4 separate regions of the Homo sapiens genome follow, and all the other regions are reported to be linked to region 2. The links are microRNA targets in miRTarBase. Many come from high-throughput screens and were not tested one by one. Region 2 holds a microRNA gene; each other region holds the end of a gene's coding sequence.
What was found. The annotated mature microRNA hsa-miR-196a-5p reads UAGGUAGUUUCAUGUUGUUGGG and lies in region 2 at 2,255-2,276, shown strand. An mRNA with a match to its seed (bases 2 to 7 or 8) in the 3' UTR can be bound and repressed. Matches are read on the target gene's strand: a 7mer-m8 pairs with bases 2 to 8, a 7mer-A1 pairs with bases 2 to 7 and ends in A, and an 8mer does both.

Region 1: miRTarBase lists MED10 as a target of hsa-miR-196a-5p. Seed matches in the 3' UTR shown: 7mer-A1 at 546-552.
Region 3: miRTarBase lists SPTSSA as a target of hsa-miR-196a-5p. Seed matches in the 3' UTR shown: 8mer at 2,357-2,364.
Region 4: miRTarBase lists ZBTB24 as a target of hsa-miR-196a-5p. The part of its 3' UTR that is shown has no 7-base or 8-base seed match.

Annotation. Positions count from the first base shown.
Region 1 is chr5:6,368,709-6,372,708 of GRCh38, reverse strand. It overlaps MED10 (mediator complex subunit 10), which reads left to right. Exons shown (of 4, transcript NM_032286.3): 4 at 108-835. The coding sequence ends at 206. Among named protein-coding and RNA genes, the nearest start is that of MED10, 7.8 kb to the left of the region's middle.
Region 2 is chr12:53,989,508-53,993,657 of GRCh38, forward strand. MIR196A2 (microRNA 196a-2) reads left to right here and starts at 2,231; the gene lies at 2,231-2,340. HOXC10 (homeobox C10) reads left to right here. Exons shown (of 2, transcript NM_017409.4): 2 at 1-772.
Region 3 is chr14:34,431,850-34,435,849 of GRCh38, forward strand. SPTSSA (serine palmitoyltransferase small subunit A) reads right to left here. Exons shown (of 2, transcript NM_138288.4): 2 at 939-3,455. The coding sequence ends at 3,352. Among named protein-coding and RNA genes, the nearest start is that of SPTSSA, 28 kb to the right of the region's middle.
Region 4 is chr6:109,462,646-109,466,645 of GRCh38, reverse strand. It overlaps ZBTB24 (zinc finger and BTB domain containing 24), which reads left to right. Exons shown (of 7, transcript NM_014797.3): 7 at 72-4,000. The coding sequence ends at 795. It also overlaps a transcript of MICAL1 not described here. Among named protein-coding and RNA genes, the nearest start is that of MICAL1, 8.9 kb to the right of the region's middle.

The sequences.
Region 1 (4,000 bases), not on the chromosome of region 2:
CTGTATTGCTTAGTGGGCCATGTGTTTAAACTTCCAAAAGGCATATTTTAAATAGTTATTGGAGTGTTGATGTGAAGAGCTCCTTTGATAATGTATTTTCTTTGTAGAAATTTAAAAGCCTGTTGATTCAAGAACTTTCTAAAGTATTTCCGGAAGACATGGCTAAGTATCGAAGCATCCGGGGGGAGGATCACCCGCCTTCTTAACCAGCTCACCCTCCCTGTGTGAAGATCCCCTGGGACTGCGATGCGGCGTGAGGCTGGGACTGCGAGTGCTGACGCCACCTTCCTGCTGAGGTGGGACTGGGCCCTGGACACACCCCTCAGCCCCTCTGTCCTCATTGTTTGGCCTCATGGGACCGAGGGGCTGGAGGAGAGGCGGAGCTGTGCCCCAGCTGTTCCAGCAGCTTGTCTGGCGTCAACTGGCTTTCAGAGTGCTGACCCCTCATCACTGTGGGGATCATTCTCTCTGAGGGCAGATGAGGCGCAGGAAAATAGTCTTGGAAATGTTAAATATGATGGGTAAATTAAAAGTTTTACAACATTCTACCTAATATTTTTCTTTTAACATACTCTTTCTGTTCTATTGTATTATGGTGTCCGAAAGCTAAATAACGACTAGGAAAAATTTTTTTAAAAAAAGAAAAATCAGTTTAATGTGGGAAGTACTTAAGTGGTATTATATTTTACATTTTCAAGTATAGTGCATAAAGAATGTTTTAAATGTAACTGTTTTCATGGATTTCAATTAGACATGCCTATAATAAACTAAGTATGTGGCTTATTCCATGTAATTATTTTTGTAATATAATACAATGTGTCTTGTAAACAGTTAATTATTACTTTCCCAGAGGGTTGGTAATATTCATAAGAAAATTTGTTTTCCAGGCATTTAGGCAGGAAAAGCTAAAGCAAAATGCAGAACTCCAATTTTTTCTACAAACCTTTCCTAGCGGCTATAGTACACCAATTTATTGACACTCTGGAAAGACGCCCGGCAGGGCTGTTTCAGCTTCAGTGTGCTTACAGATCCTGAGGGGATTCTGTGAACCTGCAGGTTCGGATTCACACGTCCGTTGGGCCTTGCAAACTGCATTTTTCATGAACTGCAGGTGGTGCTGTTTCTGTGATCTGTGGGCCACCCTTGGAGTTGAGGCCCTAGTGCGGCCTGTGCGGAGGTTGACCTATAGACCCCTGTGTCCGAATGGCCTGGGCAGGCTTGTTATTAAGGTAGGGCCCCAGTTCAGACGTGTTGAGCCTCAGGCTTTAGGATGGGCCCTGGGAATCTGTGTTAATTTGCCTCCTACGAGCGATCCTGAACCAGCCTCGATCCTAGCCAGGGCTGCCGGAATAAAACACCACATTCTGGGTGGTTTGAACAACAAACATGTATTTTCCCACAGTTCTGGAGGCTGGAAGTACAAGCTCACGGTGCCTGCAGAGTGGGTTTCTCCCGAGGCCTCCCTGGCTTGCAGACCTGCTTACTTTGACCTCACGTGGTCGTTCCTCTGTGTGTGTCACAGCCCTGGTGTCTCTTCTGTGTGTCCTAACCTCTTTAGAATCTAAGAACAGCAGTTAGATGGTATTAGGACCCACCCGAAGGACCCATTTTTAACTTACTTCTTTGAAGAACCTGTCTCCAAATACAGTTGCATTCTCAGGTCCTGAGGTTAGGGCTTTGACACTGGAGTTTTGGAGGGATGCAACTCAGTCCAGAATACTCCCCAGGAGGGTCGTATTTACCAAGAGTCAGGGGCCAGGCCCCTTAGGAAGCTGGTCCCTCGCTAGCAGTTCTGTTCTCTCCAAAACAGCACCAGAAAAGGACTCCTACTGCTACCAAGGGGAAGAATTTCTGCTAGAGTAGAGGAGGCCCCTGCTGGCAGGTTCGGGTGCCTGAATCGCTGTTCCGCCTTGTTTTTCTGGCATCAGGATGCTGACTATTGGCTGCTGCACGAGGGCCATGTGGGCACGCGGCTCGCTGGGCTCTTCCCACACACTTCACCTGCATCAACTCACCTGGCCCTCACCAGCCCTGTGAGGTCCGGCTTTCTTTATATTACTGATGTTGAAGCTGGGGCACCAGGGCTTAACGTGCCCGAAGCCCTGCAGCTTCGCCTCCCTCTGTGCTGGTTCTGGGTGGGTCCAAAGTGTCCACAGTCCCCTCTTCCTGGGCTCTGAAACATGGAGGATGTGCCGGCAGTAGGGGCTGTTCTACATATCCTGGGACTGAGTTAATCGGGTGGCCTCAAGCTGTTTTAATCTTGATGTCTGAGCCTTGGGAAGAGAGGGTGACTGTCAGCTAGAGATGCGTATCTGGTAGCCCACAGCATGACAAGTCTGCTGACCTAGGCCCAGCAGGGGCGGTGTAGCTGTCACACATTATTCTGGAATATTCACCAGTCTTTTTTTGAGTAAAAGTTTGGGTATATGGATGCACTGCCTTGGAACTCCTAACTTTCATCAGTGTGTCTGATGACACCACCACAGTGGGTCCCCAGGCAATGAAGAGGTGTTGGAGCCCCTCGACACTGTGACAGGCCACATGCCCCTTAATTCCACCCCACCTGCCATTACTGTTAGTCACAAGTGCCCATCACTTTCAAATCTCCTGAAATGCTGAGGAATCTACTTAGCTCGGAATTGATGTCAGTGTGAGAGGACTGGAGGGTTCCAGGCCGCGTTTGACACTCGGCGAGGCATGCTGTGACTGTCACTGACACTGCCTTCCAGAGCTCTCCACCCGGAGGAGCTTGGGTTCAGGTGCACACACCTGGCTGGCCCTTCATCCCTTCTTCTCAAAGACCTCATTTTGGTTAAAAGAATGATTGCGAGAGTCATCCTGGGACGGTATCAGCCATTTCGATCAGCTGCTTCACATCACCCCTGCCCATTGCCACCCAGTTCGTTCCAATCCCTGCTTTGCTTCTGACCTCTTCTTCCCCACCCCTTTCTTCCTGCAGACACAGATCGGGCAAACAGCCCCAGGGCCTACTGATTTTTGTTATGCCCAAGGACACCGCTGAACCACCACGAGGCAGGTATGGACTCAAACAGGGCCTGAGCCTGTGTCACTGTTCTAGATAATCTGTGCTGCCTCTGTGGGTCAGAATGAAAAAGCGAAAATTAAGCCCCACCTTTACACAGAACTAGAACATTCTTTATCTTTTTGGGTGTACAATCAGAAGGGTTCATTACAGAAAACTGAAAAATAGAGCTACAAAAATCTCCACATTTCTGCCCAAATTGTTACTATTGTGATTTTCATCCATCTAGATGTTCTCCTCTTGCACAGATGTGCACACACACTGAACAACTAGATGTGGAATTATTACTATGCACATGAGTTGGTAACCTTTATTCTTTTAACAGGATGCCATGAAATCTGGGCAACTCAAACTTCCTCTCACATAATTTTAATATTTAGCGTTCCATTAATGTGCTAACAGCAGATGTGTTGTTATTTACATGCTGGACACAGGTTAAGCACTTTCCATGCATTGCCTCAATTCCCACAGTAAATCGGTGAGGTTTACAGATGAGGGACCTGAGGCGCCTGCTCAGGTCACCCAGCTAACGAATGGGAGAGCTGGGCCTGTGCCTGCCACGTCACAAGACTGTGGCTCTCCTGGGCTTAGTTTATCAGCTCCCATTGGGTACCTGTGTGCTTCCCAGTTCTTCACTAATATGAAGTTATTATCTTTGACCATACATCTTCCACTTGTTCAATTGTTATTTAGGGTAAATTCCTGGAAGTTGAGCTGTTGGAGTTACACTTGATTAGGATTGTGATACCATCTGTCTCTATTGTGCTCAAGTCCTGAAATAACCAGGTGTTAGGTACAAGGGGAAGCGCTCATCTTTGGGGAGTATCAGTAATGTCACTGAGTAGTTTATCAGTTTTCTGTGTTCTTTTTTTATTTCCATTTTTTGAATCCTATCAAATATATATGAGTGCCTCATTAAAATATTTCTACAGTCAGTGACAATACAGGTGCTGGCTA
Region 2 (4,150 bases):
CCTGGTGATATATTTTTTTTTCCTCCCTGAGTATAAATGCAATGCGACTGCAAAAAAGGCAAAGACCTCAGACTCTCCTTCCAAGGGACCTGTGGTTCGTGCTGCGAAGATGCTTCCACTTAAAGCATGAGAAATGGGGTGCCGGGATGTGGGGTGTGGTGTGTGCCCTCATAGATGGGGGTGGGAGTGTGGCTGGTGTGTGTGTCAAGCCCTCACTCACCCACGCACTCACACACAGCATTCTGTTCTCCATGCAAAGTTAAGATCGAATCCATCCGCTTGTAGGGGAAAAAAAGGAAAAAAATTAACCAGAGAGGGTCTGTAATCTCGCAGAGCACAGGCAGAATCGTTCCTTCCTTGCTGCATTTCCTCCTTAGACTAATAGACGTTTTGGAAAGTTCGGCTAGTGTTCGTGTGTTTGTCGTAGCACCCAGAGCCTCCACCAAACCCTCTCCATGTCTTTACCTCCCAGTCGCTCTAAGAATCTGCTTGAAGTCTCGTATTTGTACTGCTTTCTGCTTTTCTCCCACCCCTCCTAGCACCCCCACATCCCCCATCTAGTAACATCTCAGAAATTTCATCCAGAGGAACAAAAAAATTAAAAATAGAACATAGCAAAGCAAAGACAGAATGCCCCCCCCCCCAAATATTGTCCTGTCCCTGTCTGGGAGTTGTGTTATTTAAAGATATTCTGTATGTTGTATCTTTTGCATGTAGCTTCCTTAATGGAGAAAAAAAAACCTAATAAATTTCCAGAATCATAATCCTCAAATGGATGGTTTTTTGTTTTTAGTGATTTTTAGCAACACCCCTCCCCCGAAGAGGCTGAGTGTGTGGATGTGTGTGTTTTGTGTTTGACTCATCTCCTAGAGCCTTTCTAGAACGTCTCTTGGCGGGTTTAATGTAAGTGAGAGACCATAACGTTGATTTAAATATTATCCAGGTGACCACAATAAGTCAAGGTCATAAAACAGTAATGTCAGGACGGTCTTGGTGCGCGCGAGAGGTGGATTTTATGATCTGCAAATATAATGTGGTGCTGCAGTAAAAGATGCATTTAAAGGTGACTGGAGGAGGGAAAGAGGCAGAGAGCAAGCTGCAATCTTGAGGAGCAGACGGATCTGATTGCCTGGGGTGCTGGGCTGGGCGCACCCCACTGCTGCTGGGGGTCACCCCAAGAGCCCCCCACCCATCCAAGGAAAGGAATAAACTTAACCGCTGGAGGGGCATGAGGAGCTCAGCCCCCCCAACCTCGACAGCAGCTAACAGAAACGCCAGGAGCAGCAGGAGGAGGAGGCAGCGACAAGGTAAGAGAAGCGGTTTCTTGTTCTTCTCTTGGCGGCGGAGTGGGGATGAGCGGTGTCCCCAGGTGTCCGGCGTGCAGCGGACAGAGCCTGGAGGAAGGTGTTTAGGGCATCCGTGCTTGCCGAGAACCCAGGCTTTCCTAGTGGCCGCTGGCAGCGGAGGGCAGCGACTGGGAGCTCCCTCTCCTTCCCTCCCGGGCCCATTGCCATGGGGGTTCCACAGTTAAAGGGATAAATTGATGGTTTTTGGCTTCTTTATCTTTTCGGGCACTTTGGGTCTCCTCGAAGTCGACACTCTGGTCTAGGTGTTGCTCAGTCTGGTCGTCTGTTGGTGGGGGAGGAGGAGTACAGAGGGTTGAAGCTTGAAGCTTAGGTTTTCCTGCTTTTCGCTGGTTTGGATGTGAGCCTCGTCCAGCCTCTTGTTCCCTGTGCTCCCTGGCTGTAACGTTTTGCCAGGCAAGTGGCCTGATTGGAAGTGGCTCCAGAGCACAGGGCTATGATTCAGCTACCCACATTCGCTGAGAAGCCTAAACCGAGCTGAGAGGGAGAGGATCAGAGGGAGTCTAGCAGGAGAGTGCAGGAGAGCCAGATGGACAAGACAGGGGACCCAGCTCCAGAGTGGAAGGAAGATCCAGCTTCCCCCAGGGCCAGGGCCAGATGCAGGGGAATAGCTCCACTGCGGTGCTGGGGGTGGGGCAGGTATTTGGCCGCCAGTGGTCCCATTTCACCAGATTTTTCCTGAGCAATTTGCTTAGACCAGAAACTAATGAAGGCAGTCAGACCCCTTACCCACCCAGCAACCCAAAGTCTACTCTCTAGTCCTTAGGGAGGTTGTGGGGGCGGAAAGGGGGACGGGGCTGAATTTCTTCCTTCCCCAACCCCCTTCCCTTCTCCTCCAGATAGATGCAAAGCTGAATCTCCCGCCCTGCTCGCTCAGCTGATCTGTGGCTTAGGTAGTTTCATGTTGTTGGGATTGAGTTTTGAACTCGGCAACAAGAAACTGCCTGAGTTACATCAGTCGGTTTTCGTCGAGGGCCCCAACCCACCTCTCCCACTCCTACCCTCCCCAGTGGGACTGCCCCACTGCCCCCTCCCAGATAGGGCAAAGTGGGTGCAGACCAAGGAGGACAAGCTGTGAGTGGGGTTGCAGAACAAGTCTGGAGAACCCTGCTTTATGCCGTCCTCTCAACCTATCCCAATCCCTGTGATTAAGGGAGAGGAGTCTTTCCTGCAGCTATTGTCTCCTGGGCCCAGCTGATGGAGACAGACAAAGAGGGTCCAGCCAATTCCAAGGAAATTCAGGAGTTTGAGTAAGAGGTGGCCTGGCGGGCCAGCTCAGTTGGGCAGCAGGGTGGGGCAGAATTATTAGCAGAAAGAGGAGCACAGAAAGAGAAGACGGTCTCTGGAATGGTTAGCCTCTCCCACCTACCACCTCCAGTCGACTGGGGCTCAAGATTCTCCTTAGAAAAGTGGGGTACCTGGAGGTTCCAAGAGTTGGGGAACTCTGAGCGCCAGCCCAGCCCTTTCCCCTTCCCCTTCTATAGCTCCATCTCCAGGGGAAGGACATGTTTGGGGTGTTGGTAGGTTAGAGGAAAGCCATCAAAGTCCAAGTAGAACCCCTCACACACGCACACGCACGCAACTGGGAAACATCAGGGCAAAAACCTGACTCTGGTCTCTGTTTAGTCGTCTGTGGCCTGAAGGCCTCAGTTTCTGTGGCTGTGACTGTCAGGCAGCTGCCTGTCTTTGCACTATGTGGAAACATCTGGGTGAACAGAGGCTGCCCGTGCCCACCATTGCTATGTTGGTGGAAAGGTTGTTGGCTGATGCCAGGGGGAGGAGGGGAGGAGAATGGGGTAGAGGAAAATCTGAGCAGTGTGAAACTTTGCAAAGCTTCCTCTCATCCTTTCCCCCTTGGTTCTTCAATTCTGGCCCTGGTTGCTACAGAGAAAGTTCTCAAAAGAGGTTTCTTTGCCTGCCTGCGGGCGGAGTTGGGGGGGGGGGAATAAATGGGGGAGGGGTTATGGAGACTGAGGAGATACACCCCTGTTCTCAGAGATACTGGGGAAGAGAAGCCAAAAGAAGGTCAGGTTCTTGGTTCTCTTACTTTGAAATTATTATGATTATTAAAACATTATAAACGTCTAGACAGGGAAACAAAATTATGTCCCTGTAACAAAATATATACAGAGTTCTATATTCTCACAGTCATCTGCTGGGAGGGATATATGTGACCTTGTATGAGTGTAGGGCTCTGTTTCTGTCTCCCCTAGGCTCTCTTAAATACCCTGTATGTATTTATACGCATACACATTTATTTTTCCCCTCTCTTATGCGAACATATTTGTTTTGACTCCCAAGGAAGCTGGAGGAGAAAATGGGAATAGAATTTCCTGTCTCCCTAGCTGGATTGTTGGTCTGTCTGTCCCCCATCCCTTTGTGAGAGAAAAAATTTCTTCTCTTGGAGAGAAGTATTCAAACCTCTCTATGGCTCCCAGGGAAATGGGGAAGTTTCCAGAGAGTCAGGCCAGCTGGTGGGAAGCAGGCAAGGGATTCCCCTAGTTTGGGAGCTCCTAGCAGCCTTTGAGTCTTCAGGCTGCCCCAGGCACACAGTCAGTTGGGGCAAAGCGTGTCCCAGGCAGGGACTGGGTGCTCAGGAGCATTTGGCTTGGAGATAGAGTCCCTGATGGGCCGAAATTCACTAATGAACGACTTCTGTGCTTTGGGTCTCTGTGCCCCCATTTCCGTTTCAGAGCTGTTGGGCTTATGTGTGGGAGGTCAGAGAGCCAGGGGTTGAGGTGTCTCCTCCCCAAATGCAGAGAAATGGAGCGAGGTCTCATAGGGCC
Region 3 (4,000 bases), not on the chromosome of region 2:
ATTTTAAGCCCACCATTGAGACCTACTACTATTTTGAAGATTCTCTTCAAAATATTACTGCTCATTAACAATGCATCTAGTCACCCAAGAGCTCTGATAGAGATGTACAAGGAGATTAATATCATTTCCATGCCTGCCAACACAGCATCCATTCTGTGGCCCATGGATCAAGGATTTACCTTGACTTTGAGGTCTTTATTATTTAAGAAATACATTTTGTAAGGCTATAGCTGCCATAGGTAGTAATTACTCTGATGGACCTAGGCAGTCAATTGAAAAGCTTCCAGAAATGATTCACCATTCTAGATGCCATTATAATAAAAGATTTATGATTCATGGGAGGAGGTCAAAATATTAACAGTAACAGGAGTTGCAAAGTTGATTCCAACTTTTATGGATGACTTGGAGGGGTTCAAAATTTCAGTGGAGGAAGTTAACTGTAGATATGCTAAAAATAGCAAGAGAACTACATATGGAGCCTGATGATGTGAGTGAATTACTGCAATCTCACGGTAAAACTTGAACAGACAAGGTTTTGCCTTTTATGGATGAGCAAAGAAAGTGGTTTCTTGAGATGGCATATACACCTGGTGAAGGTGCTATGAACATTGTTGAAATTACAATGAAGGACTTAGGATATTTTATAAACTTAGTTGATAAAGCAGCAGCAGGGTTTGAAAGGATTGCTTCCAATTTTGGAGGAAGTTCCATTGTGGGTAAAAGGCTATCAAATAGCTTACATGCTACAGAGAAATCTTTCATGAATGAAGAGTTGATCAATGCAGCAAACTTTATTGTTGTCTTATTTTTAAAAATTGCCATAGCCACCCCAACCTTCCGCAACCATGACCCAGATCAGTCAGCAGCCATCAACATCAAGGCAAGACCCTCCACCAACAAAAAATTATGACTTGTTGAAGGCTCAAATAATCATTAGCTTTTTTCAGCAATAAATAATTCTTTAATTAAGATAGGTATATTGGGTGTTTTTTTTTTTTAGCCATAATGCTACTGCACACTTAATAGACTACAGGATGGTGTAAATGTAACTTTTATATGCAGGGGAAAACCAAAAAACTTCATGTGACTCACTTTATTGAGATATTCACTTTATTGCAGTGGTCTGAAACTGAACCCACAATAACTACAAGGTATGCTTGTAAATACCTTATTTTTAACAAAAAGTGAAAATGATTTCCCTGTTATTTACTAACAAATAGACCAGACATTTGCATCAGACAGTGAGCATAAACTTCTCTGATCACCTCTCAAGAGACATCTCCCATTTCTCTTTTGACTCTCCTCAAGATTTCCTGTAAGACCAAACTTTATCTTCCATATGTCTCACAGGTCAGTGTTCATAATAACCATCAGTTATACAACAGCAATTTAATGAATCTCAGAGTGAAGACAAATTGCCGGTTTCTGAGTAGAGGGCCAGGATAGGTCACCTGGATACTCATTGAAACTAATGATTCTCAACTTCTCCTGCCTTCAACTCACCAGAGGAATATTAGACATCCACTTGTTAGTGGTTCTCTATGGGGGATAGTAGAGGAAAGCCAAATTTGGGCATTAATAGAACAAATCTTATGTTAAATCCTCGTATTATTTTTCTTGAGATAATATGACTACAGCTCAGATATAACCATATCCAATTTTTAACTACTTCAAACCAAGTAATTCCATATTATTCTCACTACTCCTATCTAATTGTGGTATCAATTGGCTCTAAAAATATTAAACACATATATATTACTTGAGACCTCTAGACTATAAAATACTTCAAAAGTCTAGTCCTTAAAACGTAGGGCAAAAAATACCTCAATTTTGGCCGGGCGCGGTGGCTCACGCCTGTAAACCCAGCACTTTGGGAGGCCGAGGCAGGTGGATCAGGAGGTCAGGAGTTTGAGACCATCCTGGCCAACACAGTGAAACCCCGTCTCTACTACAGATACAAAAAATTAGCCAGGCATGGTGGCAGGTGCCTGTAATCCCAGCTATTCAGGAGGCTGAGGCAGGAGAATCACTTGATCCCAGGAGATGGAGGTTGCAGTGAACCGAGATCATGCTGTTGCACTCCATCCTGGGCGACAGGGCAAGACTCCGTCTCAAAAAAAAAAAAACAAAAAAACAACCCAGCAACACACATAATTGCCTAATTCTTTTCAATTAGCAATATTTTTATGTTGCAAAACATATAGGATAAGACATACTTACTGCTTATCTGGTCCTCCACAGAAAATAATTCAGCAATATAAATACTAGATCAATATTTAACCATCAAGGAAAAGATATACTGCTACATCAGCTGATTTTTTTTCTCTTTGAATTTAATGTATTTACATCAAAAAATTAGGTAGTCATTTTACATTTAAGGAATAAAAACCTTAAAAAAAACAATACAAAGAGTGAAAGGATTTTAACCAAGTTTACATTTCTTTTTGCTATAATTTTTAACAACAATTCGTCTCATCATAACTTAATGCAATGTGCAAATGCAGCACCCATTACAATCATTAAACTAAATTTAAGGAAGTACATTGTTAATAGTGACCCTCGGAGGAAATGGATTTCTCTTCTATTAAAAACTCTATGGTATATAAGCATTACATAATAATGCTACTTAACCACCTTTTGTCTCAAGAATTATCACCAAAGTTTTCTGGAAATAAGTCCACATAAGAATTAAATATTTAAAAGGTGAAATGTTCCTTATTTTAACTTTAGCAAGATCTTTTCTTTTTCATTAAGAAACACTTTAATAATTTTAAAGCAAAAGCTGTTAGAGTCTAGATAGCTAAAACTGTACTCCTGAGTTCAAGCTTACAGATAAATCTTTTGTTAAGTAGTTCTCAATAAAATATCTTCCCTCCCCATACCCCTACCCGAAATCTTATATTGTTCTTTACAAAACTTTGGTCAAGAGTAGAAATATATCCAGGCAGATGTATATGCCATACAATAGCAAGAACAGTAAAGCCCAACTAATGATTTTGAGTTTTAAAAATAGAAGGCAATTAAAATGTACTCAAAGTTACATTAAGAAAAGCTTTCACGGGGGTAATATTGAAACAGTCACAAAGGTTAAGAAAATACTGATATCAAAGTACAAATGACTACAATGTTAAAATAGACAAAAACTGCTATACAAGAGCCTCTTTGAAAATTAAAAATAAAGAACACAACACATGAGTCAGGATGATTTTCCTGTTCTACTCATGAATTTTAGTCTTTATAAGGTTGGTTATGTTGACATCTAGAAGAGTTTCTTATCACATCTGATGGTCTCATTCCAACTTCGTAGGGTGGGTCTTCCCCAAGGAACCTCTGATCCTGGTCGCATCTTGGTCATTGTACGATTTCAAAGTAGTGCAATATCGCCATGATGTGCTGGGGCATGAAGACGTATCCTGTGTATAGTGCCATCCCCACAATGGAAACCAGCATGGAATCTGAGTTGTAGTTAAGGAAACTTATTATTATTAATTTATTCAAAACTAAATCTCCACATGTCTTCAACAACTCTTTTATGCTGAAGTACCCATTCACTTAGTGCTTTCTCATTTATATCAAGCACTGATAAAAAAAACAACAAGAATGATAATACTAGCCACTAACAACCATGCCTGGCACCACTCTAAGCTGGTTTTGTTTTATTTTGTTTTTAGCTCATTCTATCTTTACTATCACCATATAAAGTAAGTACTGTTATTCTCCCTGTGTAGTTGAAAATATCAGACTGCTTCAAATGTTTTTGTTTGTTTGTTTCTCTTTTTTTTTTTTTTTTTTTTTTGAGACAGAGTTTTGCTCTTGTTACCCAAGGCTGGAGTGTAATGGCACGATCTCGGCTCACTGCAACCTCTGCCTTCTGGGTTCAAGTGATTCTCCTGTCTTAGCCTCCTGAGTAGCTGGGATTACAGGTGCCCGCCATGACACCCAGCTAATTTTTGTATTTTTAGTAGAGACAGGGTTTCACCATGTTGGCCAGGCTGGTCTC
Region 4 (4,000 bases), not on the chromosome of region 2:
TCCCCCTAAATAATCAGGAAGTAGTAAGTAGGTATTTCCATTTTAAAAATAAAATGTTTATTTTCTTACAGAGGAGAAAAGCCATACTCCTGTGGCATTTGTGGCAAATCCTTCTCTGACTCCAGTGCCAAAAGGAGACACTGCATTCTACACACTGGCAAGAAGCCTTTCTCCTGCCCTGAGTGTAACTTACAGTTTGCTCGCTTAGACAACTTGAAGGCTCACTTGAAAATTCATAGCAAGGAGAAGCATGCTTCAGATGCCAGCAGCATTTCTGGCAGTAGTAATACAGAAGAGGTCAGGAATATTCTTCAGCTACAGCCATATCAACTCTCTACCTCGGGAGAGCAGGAAATTCAGCTTCTCGTAACCGATTCTGTACATAACATCAATTTCATGCCCGGTCCTAGCCAGGGAATCAGCATTGTGACTGCAGAGAGTTCCCAAAACATGACTGCAGACCAGGCTGCTAATCTTACCCTGCTCACGCAGCAGCCAGAGCAACTGCAGAATTTAATTCTTTCAGCTCAACAGGAGCAAACAGAACACATTCAGAGCCTCAATATGATTGAAAGCCAGATGGGGCCCTCACAAACAGAGCCAGTGCACGTGATCACTCTGTCCAAGGAAACACTGGAACATCTTCATGCCCATCAAGAGCAAACAGAGGAGCTCCATTTAGCTACAAGTACTTCAGATCCAGCTCAGCACCTGCAGCTGACACAGGAGCCTGGTCCGCCACCACCCACTCACCACGTGCCCCAGCCAACGCCACTTGGCCAGGAGCAGAGCTGACCTGTAAACACGTTTGACTGCTTGATTGGGCTCTTCTTATAAGCCAGCTCTGACTGGATTTTGAACGCTTGAAATCAGGCTCTCCACACCATTGACTTGCAGATGCTTCTGTGAGAGCTGTGATGGCTAACTGATGTTTATAATGCCCTCCATCCAGGTAGCAAGATGTGTGTATGTCTTGTCTAAGGTACTGATTTGTATTGAGCATTTCAATATTATTGAATGGTTTTCATTTTAATCTGCAATGTCTCATAAAGACTCGGGTAGTTTTTCTTTGGGGGCATTGATCTCAGTTTTTCTGTAAGGTTTAAATGTTCACAGCCATAGGTTATGGTCTTGCCAACCTCCCCAGTTATGTTTTTTTGTTTTCTAGGACAAAGGGAGTCATTTTGGTTGAACTGGGCAGAATGGTTTGTTCTATTTTCTTATTTTTCTTAGGCAACACAGTTGTTACCACAAGACAAGTCAGGGCTAAATATGACAGATCACAATGTATGGGGAATTTGCCCTTTTAATAATTTCCAGTCCCCTAAGACAAAGTAACCCTCAACGTTTTATCTTTATGCAGTACAGTGGGCTTATTGTGTTAACACTTCAGAAAGATTCAAACTCATAAACTCAGTATTTTAACTCAAAATTCATGTAACAAGATAGCCAAAAGCATAGGATTTCTTAAAATTCTGAATTCGTCTTTTCTGAGAAACATAAATTTACATATTTTTCAACAGAAGGCTATCAAAATTTTAATTAAGTTTAAAATACAAAATTGGATCAAGACATTCACCCTAAATTCTGAATTTTTGTCAGAAAAGAGATTTGATTTTCATGAAGGTAAAGCTTTCTTCACTATTCTGGAACATAAAACTTTATTCAGTGTAATTTAAGTCTTATATATACTCTACTGAATTCTAACTGATCTCCTGAAAATGTTGATCTACGTGTTGTGTCTGATAACTTTCTGGAGATGGAAGCTTATAATTCATTTTTATTGCAGACTAGTTAAATCCCACAAAGTGAATATCTTCTCCTAATCTTTCCTTTTTTAGAGACAGGGTCTCACTGTATCACCCAGGCCAGAGTGTAGTGGCACAATCATTGCTCACTGTAACCTCGAATTCCTGGGCTCAAGCAACCCTCCCACCTTAGCCTCCCTAGTAGCTGGGACTACAGGGATGTACCACCACACCCAGCTAATCTTCATCTAATCTTAAAACTTTGAGCCTCAGAGACTTTGTAGCCAGCATGTGTCTGTAATTGTATGATTTTTAAATCATCATCAAAAGATTAAATTATGTTTGGGTTAGGTTTTCAAGCTAAGCTTATTGAATTCTTTTACCACTTTCATGTAAGCTGGTAGGGGATTTTTGAGAAAAGAAGGTGGGCACTAGTATATCTAAATTAACAATGCTGATGGGGAGTAGGGGGTAATCTACTCTAAAATTAATAGAGCCTTTCCATCAATTGTTTTGTTTTAGACATCCTTGATTTCTCCCTAAATCAAATAAGTTATTTGGAGGTTAGAGTAATAGAGAATTCTTCAGGTTTGAGAGAAGATAAAAACATTTTGGTTGCATATTTGCTAAGCTATATTTTATTATATGTAATTCACAAAACTTCCAAAATGATATATATCTTATATGTATCAACCAAACTAATGTTAAATCAGGCCTGACTAGAGCAAAGATAACAATTTTTTACAAACACTGTTAAGCCCTAAGTATTATTTCAGGTTCTCGTTTAAACTGTTTAATTTTATTCTTAAAACACAAAGTTTTTACCAACTTTTCAAAGCCCACCAATCCACATTTTCTCCAGGAAATTAAATATTTAAGTAAGTGAGTGTTTACTCACTCTGGATAGCTAGGTGATTATTCAGAAAATACGGTTACATAGCTATTTATAAGTCAAGTTTCACTGGCTCTATAACAGTCTACCTCTACACTAAGAGAACTATAACATGAACAACATAGGTCACTTTAAATGTTCTAGTAGCAACTTTTAAAAACATAAAAAGAAGCAGGTGAAAATGTTAATAAAAGTTTATTTAATCCAACATTTGCCAAATATTTCAACATATAAAAATATATTAGTGAGACATTTTACATTCTCTTTTTCATACTAAGCTTTCGAAATCTGGTGTGTATTTTACACTTTCTGCACATCTCCATTTGGATGCTAATGTTCATTGGACATACTTGATCTGTATTTAGATTTCATACAACTTACAGTTGAAAACAGATTCTCATATCAAGTAGCTAAGACAAAAGTTTTTTTCAAGAATTGAAATAAGTATCAGTTTAAAAATTTATATTAAATTTATTAAAATTAAAATCCAGTTCCTTGTTGCATGGGACACAGTGCAAATGCTTGATAAGCACATGTGGCTAGTGGCTGCTATATTGGACAGCATGGGCCACCTGTTTCTAACTTGAGCATCAGTCCTAGCTATGCCTGAATTATTTGACCAGCTGTCAAAGAGAAACAAGGAAATGATAGCTTTGTTAATCTAGCCTCTTTCTTTGTCCCACATATACATTCTACCCCTTTGAATAAAAAAGTTCAATGACGCCGGGCGTGGAGGCTCATGCCTGTAATCCCAGCACTTTGGGAGGCCAAGGTGGGCGGATCACGAGGTCAGGAGTTCGAGGGCAGCCTGACCAACATAGTGAAACCCCATCTCTACTAAAAATACAAAAATTAGCTGGGCGTGGTGGTGTACCCCTGTAATCCCAGCTACTCGGGAGGCTGAGACAGGAGAATCACTTGAACCCAGGAGGCGGAGGCTGCAGTGAGCTGAGATCACGCCATTGCACTCAAGCCTGGCGACAGAGCGAGACTCCGTCTCAAAAAAAAAAGTTAAATGACTTGAGTACCCAAAAGAAATGTCGTGAACATGAAAGTACTTCTCATGTGTCCTTGAGAAATGATGTTGCTAGTGCAGTGTTTCACAATTCATTTTCTACTAAATGTGTACCATTTTTTAAATTGTTTTAACAGAAATATAGAGTGTGTTTCTTAGGAAATAGAATGTTATGCTTTGGGGCTCCTGAAACACCTCGTTTTGAAGGTGAATCTTTGGTTTTCTCCCAGAAGAGGGTCTGCCTTGGGATGATTGGAGCTCTTACCATCAAAATCAGTTATTCAAGTGCTTGCCCAGTGCTTCTTGAAACTCACCTCTACTCTGTATTTTCTACAGTTGGTTCTT